2 separate regions of the Homo sapiens genome follow, and region 1 is linked to region 2. The links come from fine-mapping of genetic effects on gene expression. Tissue or cell type: whole blood. Region 2 holds a variant in brackets; the other region holds the start of a gene. All regions are shown on one strand. Distances are from middle to middle.

Region 1 (16,024 bases), 49 kb before region 2:
CCAAATGCCAGTTAACCAAAGCTTTCTTTGTCATAAAGCAACTTCTATAAAAATTGCTGAAAATAAATTCTTCCCGGCTCAATATGAATCAGTAATTTCCATTTCTATTACACTGTTGTTTACCCAAAAACTATTTTTAATGAATAAGACTCAGAGTTTGCCAAAGTGTTTTCCGCAAAACAACTGTTTTGAGATACTCCAGATCTGTAATCAAGTAAGTCTGAAAAACCCCAAATACTTCACTCACATCTTGGATATGCATAAAGCACACTAATATATAACATTCTAAAAAGCCAATCATTAAAACTGTTTTATATTGTTTAAGCATTTCCTAGACATATTTGGCTACAAATCTAATATCTAATTAAACAGTTTGGGAAATGCCATCACATAATGTAGGAATATTACTAGTCATTTAAGAAACTAGAAATATTTACTATATTCTAGGCAGTTGGCTAGGAGTTGGAGTTCTAGTCTCTAAACAAAATACTGACTTATTTCTGCGACTTTTTTTTTAATGTGACATCACTCTTTTAAGCAGCTCTGTGCTTAACAATTTTTTTTTCCTGGTTTGTTTTCCACTTTTGTCTGTACTTTATTCCTTCACAGATGTGAAAGGCTAACAAATGTAAACTAATTATATTAATCAGCCTCTGCCTTGGTTCTACACTTCAAATACAGTATATATTCTATCAACAATTCTTGGATAATAACAACCTGTACTTGTTTTTTAAACAATAAAACAGGCCGGGCGCCATGGCTGGCTCACGCCCGTAATCCCAACACTTTGGGAGGCCGAGGCGGGCAGATCACCTGAGGTCACCTGAGTTCGAGACCAACCTGGCCAATATGGTGAATTCCCGTCTCGACTAAGAATACAAAAAAATTAGCCGGCCGTGGTGGTGTGTGCCTGTAATCCCAGTTACTTGAGAGACTGAGACGGGAGAATCGTTTGAACCCGGGGGGCGGAGGTTGCAGCGAGCCAAGATCAGGCCACTGCACTCCAGCCTGGGCAACAAGAGCGAAAACTCCATCTCAAAAATAAAATAAACAATAAAACAATGATGAAAACACAAATAACTACAGCACTTCAGAGTTAGTTGACAAATCCACCTTTTCAATCTACATTTCAAAATGTTCAGAAAGACACCATCCTAGGGGAAGTCAACCAGCAGCAACCTCTCTGCTAATTTTTGTACACAGAAACTTGACCTGACTGCACAAAGGTTTCAATAGATGTCTCCCTCTAAAATTAATATTGAATGATTTGTCATCTTCCATTTAATACCAAGAGGGTATCAGCCACAAACTGAAATATCACTCATATGCAAATAAATAACATTCAAGACTTTTGTCATTGTGGTTATTAATCTTGTAATGGATGGACATAAATCTATTTACATTCTCATCCTATCCTCAAATTTCACTATCCTCTCCTCTTATTCTTACTTTGTTCTACTCATATTCTCACTCTATCCTCCTATGCGTAAAACGTTATGTATTCTAATGAACAGAGATGTCATTCGTGGGCAAGGAAAAAATACAATGAACTGCTCTTTGTGATAAAAACCATGATCTTGACACAGATGTTATCAATCAATAAACTTTACACAGCTTTACACTAAATTAATACAAACTGTTGATGAGTGGGCGGGGGGTGGTCACTAAGCAAACAGAAGCATGTAGATGTTAGGAAGCATGAGAAACATGTATCAGTGGATAGGGAAGGCAGCTCTCAAAGGCCAAGAATGTTAAGTTTCAGGTCTATATGGAAAAAGCTGTGGTCACATTTGAAGGCTTCTGAACAGATGAATGATTAATTTCATGCTTAAAGAGTTCAGGTGTAAATAAACTGGATGGATAAGAAACTCAAAATCAAGAATTTTAAGACACTAGGTTAAGGCGATTGATCTAAGTCAAAGCCAACAGGGCATGGGCTAAATGTTGACATGGGATGGGATGAAGAGGCCAACAGTGTTTCAAAGTAGAGGTTGGCAGAGCTTCAGGAACCAGAAGAGGAAGACTTGAGGTGAAATCTGAAACTGTAATCCCCATACCGGGCTCAAAAGATGTGATACTGACTAGGAAAAGGCTGGAGACAGAAGCTTCTTTTAAAGAGCTAAGAAGGGATTGTTTTAATGTGCTGGGGTTGAGGTGAAAATGACAAATACTCAGGTGGAAGTGTCCACCATTCAAGTAGGATAAATTGGAACAGAAAGCCCAACTTATGTCATGGTGAAATGAGGATAGTAAGTCTTGTTAATAAAAACACATCTTACTAGTCTTTCCTGGGGAACACGAAAGATGGAATTTCAGAAATTTAGAGAATGAAAAAGGAAAGATTACAAGGCAATAAGTTGATTAAAATAGACTAAAATAATCAGTGGCAGCTATCTTAAAGCAAGATATATCTTCTACAGCACAATCTACCCAAATGCAAATCTGGGCAGATAATTACAAAATATTTTTAGGATTGATAAAATTTCAGCTATATGTCTTTTTAAAAATGCTGCAGAGAGAAATGATGGGAAATTTACATGGATTTGCCAAATGTTTGCATAAGGATTCCACAGCCAACGTACATAATTTTCCAACTATTATGGTTAGCACTGGGCTCAGGCACTACCTTTGCCAACCAGCAGATTTTCAGTATTGCCCCTGGCAGACATCCCATTAGCAATCTCTCCCCATTCCCAAACATTCCCAACTATTCTAGCCATGCCAATTCAACCAATGTCCCTTAAGTCTTACATAAACATTGACTTACACTGAAATGTATCCTATGGCTCTTACTAACTGTAACTTACTTAAATCACCCAAGCCTCTGTTTTTCCTGCTATAAAACGTAAAACAGCTGACAAAATACTTATTTGTGTTTTTTGGAAACACGGGATAAAGCAAGGCAAGCAAAGAGAACAGCAGAGACGATGCTTAATAAATATCACTATAGGATCACCTTAATCCATGAAGAAAATGGAGTTTAAATTTTAATACAAAAAAACTCAATAAAGTTATACTTATGTTAAATTGGTGGTTATTTTAGGTCAGTGGTTTTAAAACTCAACAATGAAACTGTTTTCAAAAAGAGTTGTTATACAGAACAGAAAAAAGCAGCTGCAATTTTAAAAAAGATATGAAGACCCAGATTCTCACTAACTCATTCAGCTCCCTTCACACTCCCTCCCCACAGCCACCCCAGCTCCTGAGGCAGGTTCCCAGGACTCCAAGGAACACACTTTTAAAAAATCAATATTTTGAATATATAATAAGTGATATAACATAAAAGTATGGTGAGAAAGTCCCATTGCCAAGAGAAATATGTTAATTTTTTATTTAAAAAATCATCACTGTTTTCATTGTGACATCTTGAAGAACACTGAATGGCTTCAAAGTAACTGTATATGCCAAGATTTCTGGAGTGGGCACGTCTGATCTTTCATAATGAAAATTGACAAACCTTTTTAAGGGGATAGCATTGCTTCTTCACCCTCCCCCTCCTCACCCCTGCACACACATACACTTCTCCTTTCTGGGGAACTCCAAAGAAAACAAAGGCCCTTTAGCAATCAAGTAGATTGTCTCTCCTGATGGCATCCCATGAGTTATGGAATTACACACTGCGGGCCCAGGTGGATTAGGGCCCCTAGAAAGTTTGCTTGATCAACAGAGTGCTGTTGATTTTTTCAACTGAATTAATTACCCTTGGAGTCCAAACTCTCCACTGTGTCACAGTCCTCATCACGCCCTAGTATCTTAAATATTGCATTATCTGTCCCCTAAAAGTATTTGCACATGTGACCCAGAGAAGTGGACTTATAACTTGACTAGGCAACTTCTGTCACACTGGATTCGTATGAAATTCCACTGCAAGTGACATCACCAGATTGGGGACCCTGAAGTGTCTGAGTATCTTCTCCACATCTGGTCATTTAGGCCAGGAAATTCCTTCTTGTCTGCCAGGTCTTTTAGCATTCATTTTGTAAGTCATTCAACACCTACTTACTTAGAAGAATACTGGGCTAGACAGTGTGCTAGGGGCTGGGGAAACTGCAACGCATAGGAGAGAATTCCCATCTCCAAGAGGCTCACAGTCAAACAGACATAAATGGGCGATTACAATATACTGTAACGACATGGTTTTAGAAACACCTAGCAGAATCATACAGACGAAGATGCCAGGAAAGGCTTCTCAGAGAATCTGGCTTAGCAAATATCTTAACAAAGAGGGCTGAGCAGGGATGAGCCAAAGGAGAGGATGGAAAGCAGGTTGTGGGTGAGTTTTCCAGGCAGCATGTGCAAAGGCTCAGGAGAAAGAGGAAGGAGCCTGTGCTTTAAGGAATATTCCATTACTATTATTAGTGTCACGCGTGCTATTTATCTAGACGGAAGCTCCTGAAACAAAAAGGATACACTTCAAAAGATGCCAATATATCCATGACCACACAAAAGAGTGTCCAGTCATATAATAAAGGGTGTACATATGCAGGCAACACACATCCTGCCAAATATTAAATTTCTAATTTTATTATAATTTCTAATAAAACATTAGCTTTATTATTATACAGAGTCATACTCCTTAATTGGGAAACTCTCAACTTAATAAACATTCTTTAGTCTCATGTCTTTTCTAAAGGAAAGAAATTAATGTTATATTCTTGGGTGAAAAAAATGTGAGGTCTCAAAAGAGTATTAATACAATTTGGGGATGCATATATATTTTATATGTATATAGACACATAAAAATCTAAAAGAATAAATTTTAATATGTTAACAGAAGACAGAAGTCATGTATTTTTTACTTTCTTCTTTTTGGCGTATTTCTTCTTCTAACTTTTTTTTTATTTTTTTTTTTTACAAAACACAATTCTTATTTGTGTACTTTTAAAACCTCAGAGTTATACTTTCACAATACATTCCTGGCTGAAAGTTCACACTCGGAATTCCAGAGCAGTCCATGGCCAGGCCCACTGGGCTCCACTTGCTCTCTCCTTGGCTTTGGTAACCACTGGCCCCAGGGACTCAGCCTGCTTTCCTATCCATCCCCTCAGTAGCTGTCACCATGCAGGTTACCCCTTCTGTTCCTTCTACCACTAACTCCATGTCTGACTGCAAGTGAAAGGAACAGAAGCCCAAACCTTTGGGTTTTAAGGAGTTTATTGCTAATCAGTAAAACAGAAAGAGACAGAAGATAAGTATGACAAAGTATAGGGAAGAAATGACTTTTGCCTAAACTTCCAAATTGTGTACAATTGAAGCCTCTGCTTTATAGTTCTTAGCACACCTCTCAAATAAGAAGGCAGTACTGGGAAGGCTCTGAACCTGTGGCAGAACCACTGATAGCTGTGGAGCTATTCCAAGGAGTCTGGGAATCAGGGGGATTATCAAGATCATTGCTAGAATAAATTAATCTTACCGTATATATAGCACAAGTTTTCAAGCATATGTAAATGCTACTTATAACCAAATAATTACACCTTGTTTTTCTTTAAACTGTAACTCTCAATTATGTCTCTACATAATTTTTTGATGGTAAAGTGTCTGCATGCTCAAAAAGCTTGAAAACACTAATGGAGAAGAAGGAGGTCTCAGGAGTGTGATGGAACAGGTTTACATGGCAGCTTCAACATTTAATTGATGAAAGTGACTATGTGTCTTAAACTCTCTGAGCCTCAGTTTGCACATCCAAAAGCAAGGATATAATTCCATGAACCTTTCCACCTCAAGTCCACAAGGCAGAATAGCAAGATGTTAACTGCCACTCTGAGGACCACCAAATAAAAGGACAATTTATTAGGCCACTTGCCAGCATGGACACAATCGCCTCTTGGCATTTCTTATTATCCACAGAAAAATTAAAAGTATAAATGTAGAACAAAATTATTATTTTTTTTTAATAGTAACATGTAAGATCAATCTTTGTCTTTAAAATACCATGTATCTCATTCTTGGAAAGCATCAAAAAGAAAACGGTATAGTAAGTTTTATCTACAACTTGAATTAAAATTATTCTTGAAATATGTTCTTAATGGTTAGATGAAATGGTAGTTAAATACAAATAGAGATAATCATATACTCTCTCTCCATAAGGCTCCCACCTCCTTCAATAAAGTCTAGTTCACCTAAAATGATACTATTAATTCAATATTACAAGTTGATAAGCACATTAAATCAAAACACAGCAAGATTATTTTAAGAGTCTGACTGAAATGTCAGGATAAGAAATAGATTAATAAATATTGGTTTATAATGTCGGTAATGAAAACAAATACGTTATTTTCAGAAAATAAAAGGTATTCGCCATTAGGTACAAATCATAAAGGGATTATCTACGGTTACTACACTGTAACAACTTTTTACATATTGTATTTTAGAACAAGCTTTTGAGAAGACAAAGCAACACATCAGCAGTTTAACCAATTGTCTTTCTCTTTTAACAGGCTGGTCTACATTAGATTAGATATAAAAGGCTCAGGTACACTTGTGCTCGATCTTAGCCAAATGGCTGAGAAACAGCCAGGTACATTTAAATCAGTGACAAAAGAAAACACTATCCTTTAATAAAATTACATAAAATAGGAAACATCTCTTACTTTAAGAGCAACCATGGTACTTCTTCCTATGGTGAAAACTGATGTTATCTCGCTTAATTATTCATCCCAACACCTGGCCTTGCTCCCTTTTCCACCTCTAGCTATGTTAACACTAGAGTCCAATAATTTGCTGATAAAGAATCTTAACTGCAGTATCTAACAGATCTTAGTGATTAAGCATATGATTTACCCTTTGATTGTACAGATAAGTAAACTGAGGCCAAAAGAACTGAGGTATCTTATTAAAAATCAGAAAGCTAGTTACTTGAAAAGCCCACCTGTCCTTCCTGTCCACATGTCTCACCAGAAAAACAGCAATAGTGAAAAGTCAACTCTGTTTTTAATGGGCCACTTTGTATATTTTAACTGTTAAAATAATCCAAGAGGATATTAGTCATATACGAAGATCCTTTAGATATAATGTGTAGGACCAGCGTTAATTTAATCAACCAAGTCTCCTCTCATTGAATTATTAATTCATAATTACAAAGATGACATTACAGTAAATTAAGAAATACTGTAATTTCATTCTCTCCCAAAAAGTATACACTTAAGTTTGGTGATTCACTGTTATATTTTCAACTAGTAAATCAATGTGCTAATTCTGGGGCTTAGGTATATTGCATATACTGGAATGATATTCACTTTAAATGTTTTGAGATGTATAATGTAATACAGATCCTACGTGTTTTTAAAAGTTCACATCAATTTCAAGCTTTTAAAAATGTATGTACACAAGAAAGCTTCTTTTGCAATTTATATGTTTATAAATGTTTCCATTAGCTAAGATATATTTTGGAATGTGATCAAACAATATTGAATGTCAAGTCCTAACAGCAGGGCTGGTCTAAGGAATTCCCTCTAAGCTAAATCTGGTACTTCTCATATGTGGCTACTGCTCTTTTAAACTACTGTGTCCCTAAAGGGCTAAAAGGAAGAAAATCCTAACTCAACAAGTGAAGGTAGCAAGGCATAGTATTTGAATGGCTACCTTTCATTTTAACTCTACTTCCTAAATTCAAAATTGGATTTGGGTTTGTTTCAAGTTGTTCACAATTTACTAACGAAATGTGCATCTCTCATTCTTCCCCCAAAAGAAAGAAGTCATCCACTCCAGCTACATATAAGTCTCCAATTTCTATACGTGAAAACCGAAATACCACTCATTGAAAAAAAAATGTACAGAGAATTGGCAGGCTGCATGTTTATGTAAACCTTCAGAAAACATGGAAACACGCAGCCCCAACTCACCAGGAAAATCAACACTTCTGATCAAACTATTTTGTGACATTTTATGTCTTTTATACATTTCACTTCATATCCAGTATTCCAGTTTTGCACCGGCGTGCCTGTATCAACCCCAAATCGCCTGAGAGCAATCTAGTACTGTAGCAGAACAGTTTCAACATGAAGAGTTCTGCTCATTGCCTGTGGCGTGGTCCTCGAAACACCTGAATCAAACATTGATTCCCCTCCTCCTGCTATTTAAAACCGAGGGACGTCAGGCTTGGGTAGCAGGTAAAGAAAAGCCACAATAATCAAACAAACAAGCAACCAAAATACCCGAACACGGAACACGCTAAGAACAAAGGAAACACAAGAGTGTGAACAGGAAATGAAGCAACTCTATACACATAAATACCTTCTGGGGCCGCCAACGTAGGTAAAAGTAAAGGTGGAGTCAGAGTATCTGAAATCTGAAACAGAAAGTCCCGTCAAAAGCTACCCCTGGAGTGGATTTGTTTTAACCCCGATCAGGACTTGAGCCCCACATTCGGTGGTGTCAGGGGAGGCCTGGCCGGGCAGAAGGCAAGGGCTAGAGGGCGGCGAGGTCCCTCTGCGCCGCGTCCGAGGGGATGCGGCGCGCCCCCGACTGGGTGCAGCGGGAGGCCGCCCCCCGCAACAAGTGCCGGGTGCCATGGCAACAGCGGGAATTTCCCGATAGGGGAGGCCGGAAGCAGCCTCAGCCGGGCTCGCGGTAGCGAAAGCAAAATCCCGGGGGAGCAAAATGGACGAAAGGCGACCCCCAGGCAGGGGCGCTGGGTGCCTTGGGAATCCGAGGAATCCCTTCTCTTTGCCAGTCGGAGGGGACTAGAGGGAGCCGAAGGGGCCGGAGATGGGCCGAGCGCTGCCCCCCGGGGGTCCTCGGCGCCGGGCGCAGCTTACAAGCGCAGCGCAGCGCAGCAGGCTCCATTCCCGGCCGCCGCCGCTCAGCCCATTGCGCAAACCAACCCCGCTCTGCCGCCGCTGCTGGAACCCAGGAAGCGTGCTTGGAGGCTTCGGGCACTACGCGGGGCTGGAAATACCACGCACTGCCCCTTCGCCTAGACCCCCGCTCCGGCCACGCGGGCTCTGCCCTCAAAGCTGGTGGCTGCCTCAGACTTGGCGGTGGGGGAGGGGAAGGGGAGAGGCTGGCGCCCCCTCCCCCTTTTGGCTCCCGCGCTCGTTGCAGCAGCTGTTGCCAAATGAACCCCAGAATGGGGACGTGCAACCCTCCACCCCACCCCCAGCCACAGACGTCGCGGTCAGAAAACTGGGAAGGGGGCGCTGGGTCCGAGGTTCTGGAAAAGCAAGAACTCACCTGCAAACAGGCAGTCCTTCTCAGCTCTGGACTTCTGGATCACGACGTCGATATCCTTCTGAATTCGCTCTTGCCTTGAACACATCCCCATTAAATAAATCCCTGGAAAAGAAGCAGCCGCTATTTCCACCCCACCCCACCCCCCTCGCACGCTTCCAGCTTTCGTAAATATTCAGTTAAAAATGAAACCTCTGGCCGAGGCAGGGGCTGAAGGCGAAGTGGTTTCGGAAGTGATCCTGGGTGAGAGAAGAGGAGGAGGAGGAGGGGGAGGAGGAGGAGGAGGGGGAGGTCGGCTTTGCATTCCCAGATGTGACCGCCCAGCTGCTGCTCGCCGCTGCTGGATTCCAATTTCCTCCCCTTCTGACAATGGATGGTGATGACACCAAGTCTCACTTTCTCCCTCACCCGCCCGGACCAACGGCCGTGGGGGCCGAGGTGCCGGGGACAGCCAGAGAGCAATCACCGGCTGGGCGGCGGGCGCCGGCGAGGGGCGAGCCCCGCTCCGGCTCACGCGCGCACACCCCTCACGGCTCGCACGCCGGCCTTCCACACCCGCGCACACTCGCGCCCGCGGGCGGCGGCAGCCGTGCCCAGGCTGCTGCAGCGCCGCCCGCCCGCCGCAGACCCTCCGCGCCCGCCGCCTAGTCACCCCGCCGGCCGCGGGCTGCCGGGGCTCGCAGAGTATTAGCCATCCCGGGCGGGAGCCGCTTCTCCCCACACCGACCTCCACTCGCGCCGGGAGCTGAGCGGTCGTGAAGACTCCCTGGGGCTCCCAGCCTTCCCTCTCCGCGCCCCTCCCCCCATCACTTTTATGAATTCGACTCCACTTTCTAAAGGAATTATAGTCTTGTGGCAAACCCAAACCGGAGTGGCTGGGAGGGGGAAAAGGGGGGAAAAGAAAATCTTTAAAAATTAAAAAAATAATAAAACGAACAAATCTTTCCTTATTGCCACATCACATAACACGGAAAAGGCCTTAAAATTACTCCAGACGTGCACCCTCCCCTTCCCTCAGTGCCTGAGTCTTTTTCCTCCAGATCGAAGTAGTTCAGCCCTTTTGGGGCGCCGTTTACGAAACACAGCCCCTTTTGAGGGACTTCCTCCTCTTGAAACTCACCAGTTCTCCCTTCCTAGGTGTTTCTGTTCATGAGAAATGGTCAGAATCAACTGGCACGTTCCAGGGTCTTCCTAAAAGATGGAAACCTGTTTGGCTTGATTTTTAAAACCACCTCCTTTGACAGTCAAGGGAAAGCTACAATCCAGGTGTTCAGAAATGAGATACTGCTCTGATTCTCACTTTCTGTTCTGCCTAAGGACACCCCAGGCTGACGTAGCTGCCCCACCTCTATATTGGTTTATGCCCTAGGAGAGGTCTCCAGCAGGCACTTTTCTTGTTGATCTTTTCTCCACTGAGAAGGCTCCCGCCAGTAGACCATGACTCCTTTTGCTTTGCATACTCAGTGCCATGTACAGTGCCTGGAATACAGGAGGGTGGCCTAAATGTTGGCTGAATGCACGAATGGTCATTTCTTGCAGCCTCTTTTCATTACCCTGTCTCATCACTTTTCTTATCAGCATAAGTGCCCAAGAGTTGCCAAACTGTTTCAGACCCTTAATCAATTTAGTTCTGATTCTGACCGTGACAACATGATGTTCAGCACGGTAGGAATGACTGCCATCCCTGAAGGAGTCTTAAGATTCTGTAGAATCAATGAAAGATCCTATGTTCTAACTCCTTTATCTTTCAGGAAACAAATTACAAAATAATTTCCTTGTCCAGTCATATTCACTATGAGTTACAAAAGGAAACATTCTGCATTATTGAGATCCACTGCAGCCTTTGATGTAGTAAAGCCACAGTCACAACAGTCTATATCTCCTGCTCAGTCCTCTCCTGAAATGCTTCCTGTTTAGGGTAGGACAGGTTCAAGCCCTTTGTCCTTCCTGGATATGTTGCTTTGTGTAGGCCCTTTGGCTGCCAAAAATGCTCTCTTCTCTTCCACATCACCACTGAGAATCATGAGTATTTCTTCTTCCATTATGTGCTTTAATTTCTCTGAAAGGCTGAAAGTCTATTAACTCACAAGAATTTATTTTATAGTTATCTAGCCACAAGGCTTGCATCTTCCAAGTAGAACCCTTACTACAAATAAATGTGAAATAGTTTTAAAGCTACCAAATATTTTTTTGTCTGGATGAGCTCTTAGTTTACTACTCACTCCTTAAAATAGGCCTTCTTGTGACTTGTCCTATATTTGATTTTTTTTTAAGCTTCATGGGCTGCCCTGTTTTGGTTAAACAAAGCTAACCTCACCCTGTTCATGCCCTTAAGGTGTGATGTATTTAATAAATATTTGTACATTTGAAGGAGTAAGATTAAAAAATAAAAACCTATCTAGTATGTATTTCTGCAAGATAAATTTCTCTAATTAAAAACTATACCAACGTAGATCCTTCCAAGGATCTTCCAGGCTAGATCCTTATGGAGCACTTTGCTCAAAGTAAGTCAGCCCATATCCAGGATCCTTTCTTTACCTTGCCCCATCTCCGAATATTTAAATGTTTATATTATGTGTGCTCAACATACTTCCCTTATCAAAAACTATATGCGCCTTTGAGATGAAACAGTTCTATCTCTCCTTAAACACTCATGAGTATACAACATACACACACATGCATTCAGGAACGTGGCACATAAGAGGCCCTTCACCAATTTGTTAAATAAATAAAATCAATATTTACAGTGAGGGAGAACTCAGGTGGTATCCCAAACTAAATTGAAGATAATAATCTACATGTTGGATGATAGACTCTACTGAAAAAATTCCACCGGTTTAGAATAATGATTCAAAGCCACCAGATATAATTTATTAGTGAAAAATATAAATTTTTTGCCTGTGCCAAAAGGCCCAACTGCGGAAGTATAAGGTAATGGACATGCGGCATTAAGTTCAATAATGTGATGTGGGTATTAATAACTAACATTTATCCAGAACTTAATATTTATCCAGAACTTATCCAGAATTCATTAACATTTATCCAGAACTGGTAGAAACTGTTCTAAAAGCTTTACATATAGTTACTCATTTAATATTCACAATAACCCGTATATACTAGCTGTTATTTTTCTCATTTTACAAAAGAGGAAACAGGCTCAAAGGGGTTAATTCATCTAAGGTGAGACATGGACTACAAGAAGTTTTTTTCTCTCTTGAAACCTTTCAGCAATTGAATTGAACTTAAAGGAATAAATATGTACAGAAGCCACACGAGGAAGTAAACCGCCCCGCCAATGGCTGCAGGCCAGGAGTGAAGCCGACAAGAAGCCCTATGATGGATTTTGAGGAGGGCTGAAGCCTGTGGACTCTCAAAATAGCCTCTGCTAGTGGCAGTTATATTTCCCTTTCTTGCATTCAACTTCCTTTCCCAAATGACCCAGCCATTAGTACAGTCTTAAGAAAAGTACAAGCCTGACCTCTGCTATTCCATGGTTATTAAGAAGAGGATAGGAGGCAGGATTAGCAAAGAGGGGAACAGCCTTCTTTGCCATATGCATGATAGTGTCATCAGTGGTAAATGCCCATGGGAATGCCTACCATCCTTGCTGGGATGTGGAAACAGCACTGGGACAGTTTGCTTTTGTGGCAGAATCAGTGAAGGAGGGACAAGGTAGGGGCCGAGGCATTGCTGTGAGAAGACACCACAAAGGGCCTTTAAACAAAGGTGAGGAAGTGGGATTTCATCTGAGAAAAATGGAGAGCCACTGGAAGGAAGATGATCTGAAAAGTTCTTTCTAATTATGAGATTGATATAGCTTCTGCTTGCGGTGGTTCTGTAATGGAAAGAAATCCGTAAAATTCAAAATGCCTGCTAAGGGCCCAACTACCTTCTTCTAAGTAGAGGGACGTGTGCAATTCTTTCCTTATAAAGCTGCTTGGCTGGTGTGGTGGCTCATGCCTGTAATCCCAGCACTTTGGGAGGTTGAGGTGGGAGGGTTGCTTGAGGTCAGGAGTTCAAAACCAGCCTTGGCAATATTGCAAGACCCCTGTCTCTACAAAAAATAAAATAAAAATTAGCTGGGCATGTGGGTGAATACCTGTAGTGCTAGCTACTTGGGAGGATCTCTTGAGCACAGGAGTTTGAGGCTGCAGTGTACTGTAACTATACCACTGCACTCTAGTTGAGATGACAGAGGGAGACCCTGTTTCTTAAAAAAGAAAAGAAAAAGCTGCCTTTGGAAACTAATCCTACTTTTCTGACCTCTTCTGATAGGTCTACTGTAAAAAACCAAAGTCAACTTTGAATAAACTTGACAAGCTGAAGGAGAACTTTAGGTGATGTTTTGTGGATTTGTCACATTTTGGTTCTTACCATACCCCCCGTTAGGTTACTAAGGTCAAATGTGACGGCACAGGGGTGGTGTTGAGGTTTTATGGCCCTTTCTAGCATCTTAACTAACCTAGGTAATACTAAAGCTACAGGATGAAACCTTAACTCTTCTTTCTAGTTCCAAATTTCACTTTAATTTAGATCCATTTTTCCTGTAAAATTTTAATTCCCCTTTCTACCTAGAAGCATTCTAGACCATAATTAGATGAGATGCCTCACTGTGCCATGCAAACAAACTCATTCTTAGCTTGTATTCATTCATATTAATTCCTTCTTTTGAATACCTCTTTTTCTTTTTCTTAGAAAGTACATAAATACTATATGAATATATTCTCAGCGCAAATGATTTAAGACATATATTAGTACATAAAGTAAAATGTGAAAATTCTTACCTATCCTGACCCCTAATTTCACTCTTCGTCCCAGAGGTAACTAGTGTTAATAACTTTGTGGGAATGTCTTGCATTACTGCATTCTCATATCTTCACACAGATGTACATATGTTGACAGATTTATACATATAAATTTTAATTTAGGTTGGGCACAGTAGCTCATGCCTATAATCCCAGCACTTTGGGAGGCCAAGGTGGGTGGATTGCTTGAGGTGAGGAGTGCGAGACCAGCCTGGGTAACGTGGCGAAACCTCGTTTCTACTAAAAATACAAAAATTAGCCAGGTGTGGTGGCATATACCTGTAGTCCCAGCTACTCAGGAGGCTGGGACCTAAGAATTGCTTGAACCCAGGAAGCAAAGGTTGCAGTGAGCCAAGGTCAGGCCACTGCACTCCAGCCTGGGTGACACAGTGACTCTGTCTCAAAAAATAATAATAATAATTTAATGGAACTACATAATATATATTGTTTTACAACTTGATTTTTTTTTTTTTTTGAGATGGAGTTTTGCTGTGTTGCCAGGCTGGAGTGCAGTGGCATGATCTCAGCTCACTGCAACCTCCACCTCTCGGGTTCAAGCAATTCCCTTGCCTCAGCCTCCCAAGTAGCTGGTACTACAGGCGTGCACCACCACACCTGGCTAGTTTTTTGCATTTTAGTAGAGACGGGGTTTCACCATGTTTGCCAGGATGATCTCCATCTCCTGACCTCATGATCCATCCCGCTCGGCCTCCCAAAGTGCTGGGATTACAGGCATGAGCCACCGCGCCTGGCCACAACTTAATTTTTCTACTTGTCTTGAAGAGCTTTTTTTCTTTGTCATGGAAAGAGATCTAGCTCATTCTGTTTAGCCACTGCAGAGAATGATATTGAATGAATGCAGTATAATAAGTGTTAACCGTACTTCTGCAATCATGTTGGCTTTTGCAAAATGTTTTGTGATTAAAACAATTTACAACAAATGCACAACTTTATGCACAGTTTCAGCAGTTTCTTTGGGAAGTGAATTGACTGGCTCACAGGGAACTGGCTGGCTCACAGGGAACTGGCAAATTTAAAAATTTGATAGATACAAGCAAATTGCTCTCAAATTTACTTTATCATTTTATACTCCACTGTTTTTGAGAATACCTAATTCCCTGCAACATTCCCAACAGTATATACCATTCGTCTTTAATTTTTTTTCAACCAGCTAGGTGTAAAGTATTCATCTTGTTTTTGTCTGTAATTCCCTGATTATTAATGATATTGAGCATTTTTTCAAGTGTTTATTGACAGTTTGTATAGTCTCTGTATGATTGCCTGTCATTTCCTCTATTTTTTAATTGAATTTTTTTGTTTGTATTATTTATTTGTAGGAAGTTTTTATATATTCTAGATAGCAATTCATTTTCTGTTATAGATACTCTTTACTTACACAAAAGCCTTAAATTTTTATTTGTTAGAAAATTTAAAAAAATACACTTTGGGAGGCCGAGGCAGGCAAATTACCTGAGTTGCAGGAGTTCGAGACCAGCCTGGTCAACATGACGAAACCCCGTCTTTACTAAAAATACAAAAATTAGCTGGGCATGGTGGTGTGCCCCTGTAGTCCCAGTTACTCAGGAGGCTGAGGCAGGAGAATCACTTGAACCCGGGAGACGGAGTTTGCAGTGAACCGAGATCACGCCATTGCACTCCAGCCTGGGTGACAGAGGGAGACTCCATCTTAAAAAATAAAAATAAAGAAAAAAGAAAGAAAAAGAAAAGAAAAGAAAGAAAAGAAAAAAAATTTTTAAGCCAACTCCAGACCAAATGCTACCTTATTCAAAAAAATCTGTCTTGATTTTTCCAACTCGCTAATCTTCCCTCATCCTTGAACTCCCCATTTCTAGACTATAAGTTCCTTGCATGCAGGAACTGTTTTTATTGATCTTTGTAACCATGGAAGAGGCTACCATAGAGACTATCTTAACACACGAATGGTCCCCAACTTATGATAGCTCGACTTTAGATTTTATAACTTTACAGTGGTGTCAAAGCAATACACATTCAGTGGAAACCTTACTTCAAGTGCCCATACAATCATTCTG
Region 2 (16,024 bases):
GAATTGCTTGAACCTGGTAGGTGGAGGTTGCAGTGAGCCAAGATCACGCCATTGCACTCCAGCCTGGGCAACAACAGCAAAACTCCATTAAAAAAAAAAAAAGGCAAGTTTATAAACATGGAAACGTGGACAATTGTAAGCAATATTAGAGAACTGTAGAAAACAATTTTTTACGTGATATGTTTAACCTATTTACAATAAAACCCATTAGGGTCCTAGGAATTTCTGGAACTGCTTTACTTGTGAGAAACATGATCCTAAGATGCCCATTTGTTTATCAGTACATCAATTTTCTCCTTCTTAAATTGGTATAATTATTTTCTTCCAAGAAGCCTAGCACACTTTTGTTGCTGTCATTGAAAGAGGGCATATAAGGGTTATGGCTGCTATTTGGAGAAATGCATTAGAAAATAAAAAGCTTGAAAAAGTCATATTACTGAGAAAAATATTGAATGAAAATAAGAAAGATTAAACTGAAATAAATAATGAGTCAGTAAGGTATGCACTGTTAAACACTTGATGAGATTTCCCAAGTATTGACATGCTGATAACTTGAAATAATGGGAGAAAAGGTCAATCTGAATTCTTAAAATGTTGAAGGCTGGGAATAAGAAGTAATATATCACAGAATCTGATAGTAAAATTTTTATTTATTTTATGGGAGAAGAATGGGAGACTAACAGACAATAGGAATAGGAAAGAATTAATAGAAATAGCAAAAAGAAGTGTATCTGCAATTAGTAATATAATACAAGAGGAAATTGTGTAGAGATATTTAAAGAAAGATTGATGAAATTTAGATTTATGGAGAAATATCCTAATAAAGACATTATTTATAATCAACTGTTCATAATTATTATATAATTCTGGCAGTTTTTAGCATATAAATGTAAGGCAGAATGATCTAATATAAAATGTATAAATGGGACAACATATAATTCTGCTTAGGAAATTGAATAAATAAAGTAGTGATTTAGGATTTGCATTAATATAAAAAAATTTAAAAAATGGTTTACATTTTGTTTGAAAAGGATGATAAATAGGAAAAGAGCAATTTAGTACATTGGTCACCAAAGAAATACAAATTGAAACAATAAGATGCCTTCTCACATCTTTGCCAGATTTGTAGGTACAAAAACAGTGGTAGTTGTATTGGTTGGAGAACAGAAAGACGACACTTTCATATGCGGCTGATTAGAGCACACATTGGTATCATTATTTCTGAGATGCAATTTGAAAATATATACCATCAGCCTCAAAGATGATTATGACCATGTTTCACTACTTTCTTGGAAATCATTATTAATGCATGTATAGATTGATATTTACTGTAGTATTACTTAATATAGTGAGTTGAGTACAACCTTCACTCCCAAAAAACATGAGGTAGGGGTGAATTAGTTAAATATACAATCACAACGAGTTATAACAAAATGCATTTACTTAAAATCACACTTATAAGACTATTAATGGCAATAAACATGATTTGATATAATGTTTTAAAAAATTAGGGGAATTCTATTCCTAGCGTTGTGGTAGACTAGATTTGCTGAATCACTATCCTGCTATATAAAATCTGCAAATACCAGATAAAATGTACATGTCATTTTTCAAAAGTATATTACTGACTTGAATAGAAATTAAGGTGAACCACATAGGCCAAGCATAAGGAGAATACATAAATCCAGAGAGGTATGCAGACCCCCAAACCAGAGGCTTCCATAAGGACAGTCCTGGCCCTAGTACCCTGAGCTTCAATTTTTATGACCACCTGGAATATGGGAAAGTGTGAGACAAAACCTAGTGCCTGCCCAGTATAACAGTCTTACAGGAGAAAACTCCTGAAAGCCAGAGATACGAAGGACTATAATTTCAGTGAAAGGATAAACTAGATAAAAACCTGTTCCTCAGGGGGAGACAACCAGGAAATTTTCCTGCCTCAAACTCGGTGCTATTTAGAGGAAAAATTACAAGGCCATCTTCACATGAATTTGTGGTTTAAATTTTCACTGTAAGTGTAATTAAAAAAAAAAACCCGCACATCAAACTGATAATTTATTTTATCATTATCCCATGTTGGTATTACCTCCAAACACAAGACGAAGGCAAAGTGTCTTTGGAGAAACCCACATTCACCCCACGTCTCAAAGAATGGCCACAGGTAAAATTTCATCCAAAATGAGAAAAAACTAAGACTCTTAGAAAACTCATGAGGAAATAAACATCATGAGCAGAAAGAGAATTATGCCCATAAAGATTTCAGATATTAGAATGATTATATTACTATAAAAGCTATGTTTAATATGTTTAAAAAATCAATGAGGTGTGCCAGGAATATAAATTGAGACAGTGTGTGTATCTTATATTAAGCAGATTGAAACTGAATTTAAGAGATCTTTTAGAAATAAAAAATATAATGAAAATTAAAAACTAAATGGACAGGTTAAACACAATATTGGATAGAACCAAAAAGAAAATAAGTGAGTTGGAAGTTAGACTAAAAAAATTATGCTGAAGACAGTACAGAGGAGGAAAGGAAAATTGATATGTGAAATAGAGGTTGAAAAATTAGAGTATCTAATCAGATCTGCAAAAGAAAAATTGAATTGGGGAAAGGTTATATTTAAGGTTATATTTAATATCTGAGGGGTTTTCATCATTGGAATTTATTCATGTTCAAGGAAACCTGGAAAGTTTTCTAACACATTAAAGAGCTTTAATTATAAGTTCCAAATTCTTCTTAGAAGAAGAGAACCAGCAGGCCCAGACATTTTTACTGGTGAGTTCTATCAAATATTTTCAAGAAATGGATTATTTCCATTTTATAAGAACAACTCCAGAATAAAAAAAGGTCCATTTGTTAGTTCATTTTATGAGGCCAATACAATCTTGATACCAATGTTATACGAGAAATGTGTAAGACAGGAAGATTAGACGCCAACTTTCCTCATGAACCTAATGGCAAACATTTTAAATTAAAAGTTATAAAATTAAGTTTAGAAACCTATAAAAAAGATAATATAGTATGAAAATTGTGTTTATTCCATGAATGCAAGGATTTCTAACAATAGAAAAAAATCTATGTATAATTCATCACATTAACAAGTTAAAGGAGGAAAAGCAAATCATCATTGTAGGAGAGGCAAAAAGTGAATTCAATAAAATAAAAATTTAACTTTGACAAATCTTGCTTAACAAACAAGAAATAGAAGAGCTTTCAGTGTTTGCTTATAAATCAGAAACTATTCTTGGACTTTCAAGCAGAGTTGATTTAATACAGGTGACTGATTACACAAGTGATGGAAGCCAAATCAGGCTTGGTGAGTCAGCAGCTCAAGAGCAAGAAACCAGTACTGCCCCTAGGACTAGAACGATAATGGGAGAAGGTGCTGTTACCAGAGCCAAGAGGCCAGAACTTCAGGCAGGTTGCTAGAGATAATGGGAATTGGGTCCATAGCGGGAGGGGCTATCTGGTGGGAAGTAGCCCTACAGAGAAGAGGCAGGCTTTTACGGCATCTCTCACTGGATAGCTTACTGGGAAAATGGAGGGCAAAGGAGACTGGAAAATAAATGTTATTTTCCTGAAACATAGAACAGAGTTGGAGAGTAATTTGGGAGGGATGTGGGGGCAAATTTATCAGGACCCAAGACATGATTAAAGCAGGCAGGGAGAAGAGATGCTGGTCAAAGCAGGTGGACTTTGCTGATATTTCAAAGTCCTAGTTTTAAAACTTGGAGGTAGATACATTATTATCTTATTACTAATCAGATATTTTATACATATTTAATATATTTATATATTAAATATTTATACTTCAAAACTTCTACAAACACTGTAATCTCATTATTGTTTTCTATACTATTATATACAATATACAAATACAGAAATATAGAAATGTACCTCAGTTTGAAAGAGAATTTGAATATGAGGCAAAAAGATACCCCAAAATTATAGTTACATTACAAGAACTGAATTTAAGAAGGAAGAAGCAAATTGCAAGAGATAAGACCAAGCCTCTTTATTAATGATCGTTCTAAATCCAAGTGGTATAAATTTAGGGATGCACATCTGGATCGCAATGCAACTAAGAAAGCTTGTGTGTCAATAACCATATTTATCCTATGTGAAGAAATGATAGTTTCATAGGAGAAGGTTAATTGGCATGGAGTCTGTAAAAGAGAAGTTTGGATAGATGATTGAGCTATATATTTGTCAAATAATATCTAAAGGTAAAAAGAAATCTAGTTCACAGAGGCGAATCTCTGATTTTTAAATTTGCATTAACAGAAATAACATTGGAAGGGAGTATAGTAAGATTTTAATAGTGACTGTTTCTGCCAATGGTTTCTGTTTTATTGTTTACTATTTTCGGTATATTTCCAATGTTTCTTAAGAAGTGTTTATTATTTAAAAAATGAGAAAACAGCAATGAGTAATTCAGTAAAATAAAATGTTTCAAAATTGTGACTGCTATGATTATGAGCCAATTATGAAAGAAAGAGACACAGATAGAAATAGGGTGACCAATCTTTCAACTTAGGAATGAAGGATTTTCTGGATGGGGAATTTTTGTTGCTAAAATCAGGATAGTAGGGGACATATTGGGACTGTGGGAAAACCCTACAGGGATTTATTTCCTAACTATGAATTTCTATCTTGGTCTAGAGACATGACTGTTCTCATAAATAGGTAGAGTAGATGTGGTATCTCTGGAATGAGATTTAAAATCTTTACATAGCTTGCCCTATTAAAAGTAGACACATGCTTGTGAGAGAATATCATATGCTTTTGAAAGCTAATGTCTTAACTAATTCGCTGCGATCAAAGCTCTTGAAGACTGTGATGTAACAGAGATTCTTAGGTATCAGTGAAGATATGGAGATGAAAAAAGGGAAGTTGAAAAAAGAAGCTGAGAGATAAGCATGGAAATCATTTTCCAACCTCATTTTTCCAATCTCCATTTTCCTGTATTGAGAAGTGAAAATATGTTTTCTAGAGATAAAGTTCTAGAAATGAACTCTGACATAGATATTTTAAAACCAATTTCAGAAACAAAATAATATGTGCACCTAGAGTTGTAATTTATGTCCTTTTGTCTGTCTTTATCCTGTAGTTAAGTTTCCCTTGGGATCCCTTAGGGAAAATGGAGTAGTACATTTGACAAGGCAGGACTTCAATTTTCTCTCTCCTTTTCCTTCTTTCTTTCTTTCTTTTCTTTTTTTTTCTTTCTTTCTTTCTTTCTTTCTTTCTTTCTTTCTTTCTTTTCTTTCTTTCTTTTTCTCTCTTCTTTCTCTTTTTCTTCTTCTTTCTCTTTTTTCTTTCTTTCTTTTTTCTTTCTTCCTTTCCTTCCTTCCTTTTTCTTTTCTTTCCTTCTTTCTCTCTTTCTTTGTTCCTCTCTCTTGTTTTCTCTTCTCTCTCTTTCTTTCCCTTTCTTTCTTTCTTTCTTTCTTTCTTTCTTTCTTTCTTTCTTTCTTCTTTCTTTCTTTCTTTCTTTCTTTCTTCTTTCTCTCTTTCTCTCTCTCTCCCTCCCTCCCTTCCTTCCTTCCTTCCTTCCTTCCTTCCTTCCTTCCTCTTCTTCCTTTCTCCTTTTTTTTTTTTGAGATGATCTCGCTTTGTCACCCAGGCTAGAGTGCAGTGATGTGATCATAGCTTAATGCAGCCTCTCTCTCCTGGGCTCAAGCAATCCTCCCACCTCAGCTTCCAGAGTACCTGGGGCTACAGGTGCGTGCCACCATGCCCAGCTAAAGGATTTGAATTTTCTTACATATCTTGGCCCCATAGAGTGGTTCTAAACCTTGGCTGCACATGTTTATTACCTGAGAAAAGTTTAAAATAACCTAATGCTCAGGTCACACCCTAGACTTTAGGGGTGGGACAAGCATTAATATTTTTTAACTCTCTTAGAATTAAGACCCACTAATGTTTTAGCACTGCAATTCCTATAAAGAGTACAGATGTGAGTAGATTTGTTACAGTATTGTTGTATTCATCTGTTTTCATGCTGCTGATAAAGACATACCTGAGACTGGGCAATTTACAAAAGAAAGAGGTTTAATGGACGTACAATTCCACATGGGTGGGGAGGCCTTACAATCATGGTGGAGGACAAAGAGGAGCAAGTTACATCTTACATGGATGGCAGCAGGCAAAGAGAGAGCTTGTGCAGGGAAGCTTCCATTTTAAAAATGATCAGATCTCATGAGACTTACTCACTAACACAAGAACAGCACAGGAAAGACCCATCCTCATGATTCAATTATCTCCCACTGGGCCCCTCCCACAACATGTGGGAATTATGGGAGCTACAAGATGAGATTGGGTGTGGACACAGAGCCAAACCATTCAATTGTCATCACTCAAGGCAGATGAGCATATAGAAATCTATCAGTTGTAAGGAATTGGACTACGTTTAAGAGAATAATAATTAAGTTAGAAGAAATGTTTGGTCCTGCTTAAGGGCTAGGATAGATGAGGCACAATAGAATCATGTGGTGAGCTTTAAAAATGCCCAGGCCCTACTCTGTGTCAATTAAATCAGAATCCAAAATCTCTGCTTGAGTGTGTCTAGTGTATTGGTAAAAGAAAACAGTGATTTTGATATGCAGCCAGTTAAGAGCTGGTATCCTCAAGGATCATGATGTGACACAGCTGTTTCAGAAGGGTCAATCTCCATACTCACACTTTAGAAGAGAAGAAAAGGCAAAATGACAAAACAATCAAGCAAAAGGGCTGGAAGAGCTGGTAGATAACAGGGTGTCAACTTGAATTAATTCAGCTATTTGGTAAAGATTAGCTGGAGTAAAATTTTACTTAAAGAAATTCCAGTTAGTCAAATGGGATGAACATCCTTTTATGGAAACGATATCACGCTTTTTGAATGATCTGAGAAAGACTGGAAGCATTAGAGGTGAAGTATATCCATTTGCTCGATGGGAAAAGATTTTGTTTTATTTAATTTACATAATGTGATATGCTTGGCCACCTGGAGTAGTGCCTGAAAGGGGATGTAAAATGGAAAATGTAGTCAGTGAGACTGATTAATAACCATGGACAGAAAAATAGGCCAAGTGGAAAAACTTATTCACATAATTGTTTCATTTTGCTGACTGCAAAAGGATTTGTTTTGGAAGTGATTTCTGCTATTTAACCTAGTGGATTGATAGATC[A/T]CAGAAAGGTCTTAGAAATTACATTATGTAATTTTGTTCATAACATGAAATTAGCTTGAATCAAAAAATGTATACCATGTTTTGTATCTACCTTCTAAGACATTTGTCTTGAGAAATTAATGATTCTACAACATAAACAGTCATTGTGAAAGGAAGTAAACAGATAACAGAGGGCTTTCATAATAATCATGGACTCAAGATTATCAAATTTTAAAAAGACATACCTCATTTTCCTTTATTTAAACATAAAACAAATGAGAGGAAACAGAAATAGCTCATAATTTTATTTATCTGATAAAACATGCTGACATAAAATATAATTCATGCACCCAGTAAGAAAATCAAAAAATTAAATAAAGGTAAAAATGAAATATAAAATTCTCCTTCCTCTAGTTTCTTACCCCCAGACATCTAGAATCTCTCCTTAAGATAATCACTGTTGACAATTTCTTGAGTATCTTTTTAAAAATGACCTTAATACACATCCCCCACATAGAATATAGATCTTAAACAAGTTAGAAAATAAAATTTTATCTTTTAGTATTACACAAAATGATGTTCAGAACTACGCTTTGTATTTTTTTTTTTTCTAGAGACGAGGTCTCACTGTGTTGTCCAGGTTGGTCTCAGACTTCTGGGCTCAAGCAATCCTCCCGCCTCAGTCTACAAAAGTGTTGGGATTACAAGCATGAGATAAAGTCTCGCCTGGCCTAGGCTTTCTATTTTTGTTTACTAATTTACCTTCAAGATATTCTTACTTTTAAAAACTGTATTGTGTAAATATATTTTTTATTTAAACAATAGGCTACGAATAACATTAATAACATATCTTGGTTTATGTATTTTACAAGATTCTCCATGTGATAAATTCCAACCCGCGAAGTTGCTATAGAGCATATGAATTTAACATTTTTTAATTGCTGTGACCTAATATGATCCTAAAACATGGCCCTAGTTTATATTCCTATGAGAATGTCTAATACCTACAATCTTGCTAACATTGACTGCTATTGCATTTTAAAGACTCATTACTTTGATTGGATTGATGTTGAACATCTTCTGTTAATCCTGGCCATTTGCATTTCTTTTTCTACCTATTAATCTCCCTATGTATAGTATTGCATTATTTGTCTTTTTTGTCTCATCGATCGACAAAGATTAAAGTTATTGGCAGTAGGGAAAATGGAGAAAAAAATCAAAATTCAAATACCGTACAGTACGACATTTTGGAGAATAATTTGATTCTATATATTGAAGTTTAAATTGTTTTTAATCTTTGACCCAGTTATTCTATTTCTAGTAATTTTTCTACCCGAATAATAATACAGGAAAAAAACCTTTTAGAGAATATTCTTATGTTTGTGATACAATATTTACAGGCAACATAAATTCTCATCCAGAGATCAGAGTAAATATTATATAGTATATCTGTAGAATGAAATGTACCTTGCTGTTTAAATGAATAAATTAGTTATTATCATAAAATAAATGTCATGTAAAGACATTTATTTTGTGATATATACAATTAGAAAAACAAGTTATTAAAAATAACATGATTTTTTGTAAAATGTTTTTATTTTGTTTTTAATTGACATAATAATTGCACGTGTTTATGGGGTGCAGTGTGATGTTTTAGTGCATGTGTACATTGCATAATGATCAAATTTAAAAATTAATTGTATTGATAGGAAAAGTGTTTGGATATTTGTATACCTAAATGCTAACAGTGATGATCTCTGGAATGTGGAACTGCTGGTAGTTTTTCCCTTTTTCTTTTAGATATTTTTGTACTTATTTTTAATAATAAACATATACTAATTTTATAATAAAAATAACAATGAAGTCCTTTCCATTTTGAAAAATTAATTCCAATAGAAAAATATTGTACTCGAGCCACTTTCCAGGGTTTTCTTATTCTTAGTGCTGGTATAAGGTACCAGTGATATTATATTTTCAGATACATTTGGCTTTTCTGCCTTATGGTTGAAGATGAGCTTAGGAAGTTTTGCTGCCTAATTTTTGGGCGTTTGAGCCAATGCTTGGTGCACAAAAAGCACCACATCAACTTTAAAGAGAATATTCTGCTTCGTTAGACTGTATTCCCTACTTTTTATAGTATTTATTAGCACCAGAACTCTGTGACTGTTTCCCAAAGAACAAGAGAGAAAGATAAAGGAAAGTGAGAAGCAACAAAACTAGATTTAATTAATACTCTGGCTTGTCAGCAGCTTTCATGAAAGATTTGTTTGTTGAAGAAGTTGAACCTATCAGCTTAAACAGGGATTAACTCTGCCAACTCTGACAGAGCATGGACAATTAAGAGTTTATTGGAAATTAATTGAAAATAATACAGTGTTGTGAGATGGGAGGAAGATGATTTAAAGGAAATTATGCCAAGTGTTTTGAATCAGCCAAGGATAAACAAATGCAGACTATCATTTGATGGAGGTATTTTAAACTGATAACATGATTCGAAGTATAAGAATGGCAAATTGTGAAGAATGAATAAAATTACAGAGATAAATAGCAAAAATGTGAAACTAAAATAAAGAGGAACAGTGAGTAAATGGGGTTAGCTGAGAATATGGTTTAACAGGGCATACTGTATTCATTTATGAAGAAATTTCAATCCTCAAAATGCTACTCGTCTTAGTCTGTGTAGGCTACTGTAACAAAATACCATAAGCTGAGTAACTTATAAACAACAGAAATTTCTTACAGTTATGCAGGCTGGGAAGTCCAATATCAAGGCACATTTATCATCTGGGGTGAGGTCCACCCTTCTGGCTCATAGATGGCAACTTCCTGCTATATCCCCATACTTTGGAAGGGGCCAATGAGCTCTCTGGGATCTCTTTTATAAGGGCACAAATCCCATTCACGAGAATCTTGTCCTCATGACCTAATCACCTCCCCAAGGCTCTACCTCCTAACACGAATACCCTGGGGGTTAGGATTTCAATATACAAATTCGGGGGGACATAAACATTCAGTCTGTGACACTGCCATTTCGTCAGTAAGAATTTTCATGAACTCACTATTAAGATTTATGTTTATGTTTTTTATGCTGATGTTCTCACTTTATAATATTGTTTGTCTGCATAGTTTAAAGAAAAGGACAATGCCCAGTTAGAATAGGAGGTGTCTTTTGTTGGCCAGCAAAATATTTTAAGACACCTTGAGTGTAAATACATAAAGATCATTAAGGTAATATCATTTTGTTCTTGTTCTAGATCCACATGTTTCACTCAAGATCCCAGAGAGAAAACGTATGAAAACACATTAGAAGACAATAAACATCCTTACAATGCTAGCCAATGTTTATTATTGCTTTCTATGTGTGAGGAATTGTGTTAAGCACTTAAAAAGATGTCATCACTCATAATTATCATAACACCTGAAGAAGTAGGTGGTGTGATTTTCTCCAATTTAGATATTATAGGAACTGAAACAACTTGCCCACTAAACAGGCAATTGAAAGAGATAGGATTTCTATAGAAAATTCCCAGATCCACAGGTAGTGTTCCTATTCACATCATCAGTGTTCCCTTAGTGGTTTTGATATTACACCTAATACTATTTACTACACAATTAAAGCATCCACCCTATCATGGGATTTACTCTCAAGAATAGAGCACTGAGCGTGATAAATAGTATCCACTTTGGAATGCATGTTTCTATCCAGCTACTTAATATGATATAAGTTCATTGGACATTAAGGCCAGATTTCTTGACATGCTTTACCCTCAAATTAACAAGTTTGGCTCATTCAATTGTGGACCTTTAACCCTTAGGCCAGATAGTATATGAGTCCTAGAGTAGTGGAAAAAGGTAACTGAATTTACAAAATTTGACTCATCAAATTCTGTAATAATTCAATATATTGAGGAAACTTTAGGTGCATAGTAAAATTATAATTTCATATTGTTGCACAGACTCAGGCAGATGAAAGAGACTCCAATAGTGCTCATGTAGCACCCAGACAGTCAGTTGATCGTCTCTGTGCTGAAAGGATTTAAGAGTGAAGAATTTGCTCCAATGTATTTTTCAATATCTCATTGTTTTAAAATAATATTTGAAATAATACCTAGGAATCCAACTTACAAGGGATGTGAAGGACCTCTTCAAGGAGAAATACAAACCACTGCTCAAGGAAATGAAAGAGGACACAAACAAATGGAAGAACATTCCATGCTCATGGATAGGAAGAATCAATATCATGAAAATGGCCATACTGCCCAAGGTAATTTATAGATTCAATGCCATCCCCATGAAGCTACCAATGACTTTCTTCACAGAATTAGAAAAAACTACTTTAAAGTTCATATGGAACCAAAAAAAGAGCCTGCACTGCCAAGTCAATCCTAAGCAAAAAGAACAAAGCTGGAGGCATCATGTTACCTGACTTCAAACTATACTACAAGGCTACAGTAACCAAAACAGCATTGTACTGGTACCAAAACAGAGATATAGATCAATGGAACAGAACAGAGACCTCAGAAATAATACCACACATCTACAACCATCTGATCTTTGACAAACCTGACAAAAACAAGCAATGGGGAAAGGATTCCCTATTTAATAAATGGTGCTGGGAAAACTGGCTAGCCATATGTAGAAAGCTGAAACTGGATCTTACACCTTATACAAAAATTCATTCAAGATGGATTAAAGACTTGAATGTTAGACCTAAAACCATAAAAACCCTAGAAGAAAACCTAGGCAATACCATTCAGGACATAGGCATGGGCAAGGACTTCATATCTAAAACACCAAAAGCAATGGCAACTAAAGCCAAAATTGACAAATGGGATCTAATTAAACTAAAGAGCTTCTGCACAGCAAAAGAAACTACCATCAGAGTGAACATGCAACCTACAGAATGGGAGAAAATGTTTGCAATCTACTCATCCGACAAAGGGCTAATATCCGGAATCTACAAAGAACTCCAACAAATTTACAAGAAAAAAGCAAACAACCCCATCAAAATGTGGGCGAAGGATATGAACAGACACTTCTCAAAAGAAGACATCTGTGCAGCCAAAAAACACATGAAAAAATGCTCATCATCACTGGCCATCAGAGAAATGCAAATCAAAACCACAATGAGATACCATCTCACACCACTTAGAATGGCGATCATTAAAAAGTCAGGAAACAACAGGTGCTGGAGAGGATGTGGAGAAATAAGAACACTTTTACACTGTTGGTGGGACTGTAAACTAGTTCAACCATTGTGGAAGACAGTGTGGCGATTCCTCAAGGATCTAGAACTAGAAATACCATTTGACCTAGCCATCCCATTACTGGGTATATACCTAAAGGATTATTCATCATGCTGCTATAAAGACACATGCACACATATGTTTATTGCAGCACTATTCCCAATAGCAAAGACTTGGAACCAACCCAAATGTCCATCAATGATAGACTGGATTAAGAAAATGTGGCACATATACACCATGGAATACCATGCAGCCATAAAAAATGATGAGTTCATGTCCTTTGTAGGGACATGGATGAAGCTGGAAACCATCATTCTCAGGAAACTATTGCAAGGACAAAAAACCAAACACCGCATGTTCTCACTCATAGGTGGGAATTGAACAATGAGAACACATGGGCACAGGAAAGGGAACATCACACACTGGGGCCTGTTGTGGGGTCGGAGGCTGGGGGAGGGATAGCATTAGGAGATATACCTAATGTAAATGATGAGTTAATGGGTGCAGCACACCAGCATGGCACATGTATGAATATGTAACAAACCTGCACGTTGTGCACATGTACCCTAGAACTTAAAGTATGATAAAAAACAATTTAAAATATTCTGCAGGCACAGTGACTGTTTTGGCTTCTCTTAATTTACAAGGACCTTTGTCTTATAAGACTCTTTTTTTTAAGAGATGGGAATCTTGCTATGTTGTCCACTCTGGAGTGCAGTGGCTATTCACAGGCTTGATCATTGCATACTACAGTCTTGAACTCCTGGACTCAAGTCTCCCAGTGGCTGGGACTACAGGTGAGTGCCTACCACACCTGGCCTGATTTACAGATTTTTGACATCTATTATAGTTAAATGTATTTTCAGCATTTGCATATTAAAGGAATAATATTGATGCTTAACTTCATTAGTGATCAGGGAATTTCAAACTTAAAAAAATATTTTTTCATCCCTTATAGTATATTTAAAAATTCATTGCTGATAAGGATTCAGGGATGCCAACATTGTACATTGGTAGTGAGAATGTAAATTGGAAACTTTATGTAATCTGGCAGTATTTTTTTAAAAATCCTTTTGAACTTGCAGTTCTACTTTTGGGACTTGAATTTGTGGAAAGTAAAGCACCCGCGGGAAAGAATATTGTTGCCCCTTGAACAACATAGGGTTAGGGGAGCTGGCCTCCCACACAGTGAAAAATCCGCATACAACTTTTGACTCCGCCCAAACTATGAATAACCTATTGTTGACCAGAAGGCTTATTGATAACGTGTTACATTTAAGATATATTTTGCATGTTATGTGTATTATATACTGTATTCTTACAATAAACTAAGCTACAGAAAAGAAATCATAATCAAGAAAATTGTAAGGAAGAGAAAAATATATGACCCATTCATTAAGTGGAAGTGGATCATCCTAAAGGTCTTCATTATTGTTGTCTTCATGTTGAGTAGGCAGAGGAGGAGGAGGAGCTGGTCCTTCTGTCTTAGGGTAGCAGAAGTGGAAGAGGGGGACGGGATGGAAGGGGAAGCAGAAAAGGCAAGCACACTTGGTGAAACTTTACAAAAATACATCATTATTTCTGTCTATTTTGCTTTTTCATTTCTCTAAAAACATTTCGGTGTAGTACCCATCCGTCTTCCACCATTTGCCTTAGTTTTAGTTCCTGTATCATGGAAGGGTCTATGTCATAAAAGAAGTCAAAAGTAGTCTTGAATAATCAAAACCCTTTTGCCAGATTGTTGAATGCCAATTTGTTTTCTGGCACTGCTTTTCCTATGTCTTCTTCCTCATTATCTGGCACTGGTTAGGAAGTACTCATCTCCATCAAGTCATCTTTTGTTAATTCCTCTGGTGTGGTGTCTATTAGCTCTTAACTTCCTCTGAGATCCATATCTTGCAACCCTTCACTCCACACCTTTTTTTCCCTTCATATCCATACTTCTTTCCAGGGTTTTTTCTTAATTGGGTTTGTCATAATTCTGTAGTTATGCACAACATCTGGACACAAATTGTACTTCTGTCCAGCGGGAACTTATTGTTTTGAGTTTCATGGTTTTCATGACTTTTTCTATATCACCTGATGACATCTTCAAAGGTGTAAGCCTTCCAGACTTCCATGATGTTCTCTCTATTGGAGTTCTCTTTTGTAGTGTTGACAAACCTTTCCATAGAGTGCCATGTGCAGAGCCTTAAAGGTCCTTGTGACTCCCTTATCTAGAGGCTGAATTAGAGATGTGTTTGGGGGAAAAGGAGACCACTTCGGTGCCTTTGGTGTTGGACTCACGGGGTTCTGGGTGGCCAGGGGGCATTTTCCAATTAAACAACAACAAAAAAAATACTTTAAAAAGCAGTCCCTTACTGTCAAGGTACTTCTGACTTCAGGGACAAAGCGCTGATGGAACCAATCCAGAAAAAGCATTCTCATAGTCCAGGCCTTCTTGTTGTACAACCAAAAGACTGGAAACTAGTGTTTCTCTTTTCCCTCTCAAGACTCAGGGGATAGCAGCTTTATAGTTAAGGGCAGCCCTGATCATAAACCCGACTACATTTGCACAAAGCAGTAGAGTTAGCCTATCCCTTCCTGCCTTAAATCTTGGTGCTTGCTTCTCCTCCTTATGAATAAATGTCCTTTGGGGCTTCCCCCTCCCCCCCACCCCAGAATAGGGCACTTTCAGCTGCATTAATACCTGTTCAGGCAGATATCCTTTCTCCTCAATGTTTTTCTTAATGGCATTTGAGAATTCACTTGCTGGCTCTTGGTTGGCAGAAGTTGCTACTCCCATTATCCTGACATTTTTAAAACCAAACCACTTTCTAAAATTATCAAATCATCCTTTGCTGGCATTAAATTCTCCAGCTTTAGATCTTTCACCTTCCTTTTACTTTAAGTTGTCAAATAATGACTTCGCTATTTCTTGAATCAAATAAGAGTCTATAGGTATGTCTTTCTTATAGCAATTCTGTACCCACATAAAAGCTGCATTTTGAACATGAGATAAGAAAAGACAAGGTTTTCATGTCTGTTGGCATGAAATGAGGGCCTTATGAATTTCCCCCCCTTTTTTTAAGGGACCTTACACTGTATTCATTTATTTTGAAATGGCAGGCAGCTGCAGACCTCAATCTATAGGAAGCAATCTAACTTTTTCTCATAATGTCACAACTTTTCTCTGCTTCTTGGGAGCACTCCGAGCATCACTTGTGGCACTTTGTATTGGTCTCATGGTGTTATTCAAGATTTATAGTATTACACTAAGCACAATGAAAAGAGAACTGTGAGAGAACACACTATTTACTTAGATACAGAATTTACTGAAGAGACCAAGTGTTCATGGCAGATACTGGCAACAGGAGCTCACCACAGTAGCAACAGGGGGTGGCTACAAAATTATTATAATAGTACATACACTGGAAAGTAGACATTGAAGAATATTCCAAAAGATGCCAGGGTTGGAGGGGAGTGAGGGTTGAAAAATTATTATTGGGTACGATGTTCACTATTGGGGTGATGAGTACAGTAAAATCTCAGAGTTCACCACTAGCAATATATCCAAATAACAAAACAACCACATAATAAAAGTACGCTTGTACCTAGCACATTTATAAAAATAAAATAAAAATAATTATTCT

The links. PIP is the estimated chance that this variant, and not a neighbour inherited with it, causes the effect.
Region 1: it holds the start of PARP8, and the variant in region 2 is fine-mapped to the expression of PARP8 in whole blood (INTERVAL, PIP 0.98).

What each region holds. Positions count from the first base shown.
Region 1 is chr5:50,660,334-50,676,357 of GRCh38, reverse strand. It overlaps PARP8 (poly(ADP-ribose) polymerase family member 8), which reads right to left and starts at 9,721. Exons shown (of 26, transcript NM_024615.4): 1 at 9,172-9,721; 2 at 8,233-8,287. The coding sequence starts at 9,262. RefSeq lists silencers at 8,597-8,926, 9,619-9,678, 9,729-9,878 and enhancers at 7,899-9,098, 8,534-9,446.
Region 2 is chr5:50,611,217-50,627,240 of GRCh38, reverse strand. No RefSeq gene overlaps it. Among named protein-coding and RNA genes, the nearest start is that of PARP8, 47 kb to the left of the region's middle. The variant A/T (reference allele first, on the strand shown) is at 7,168.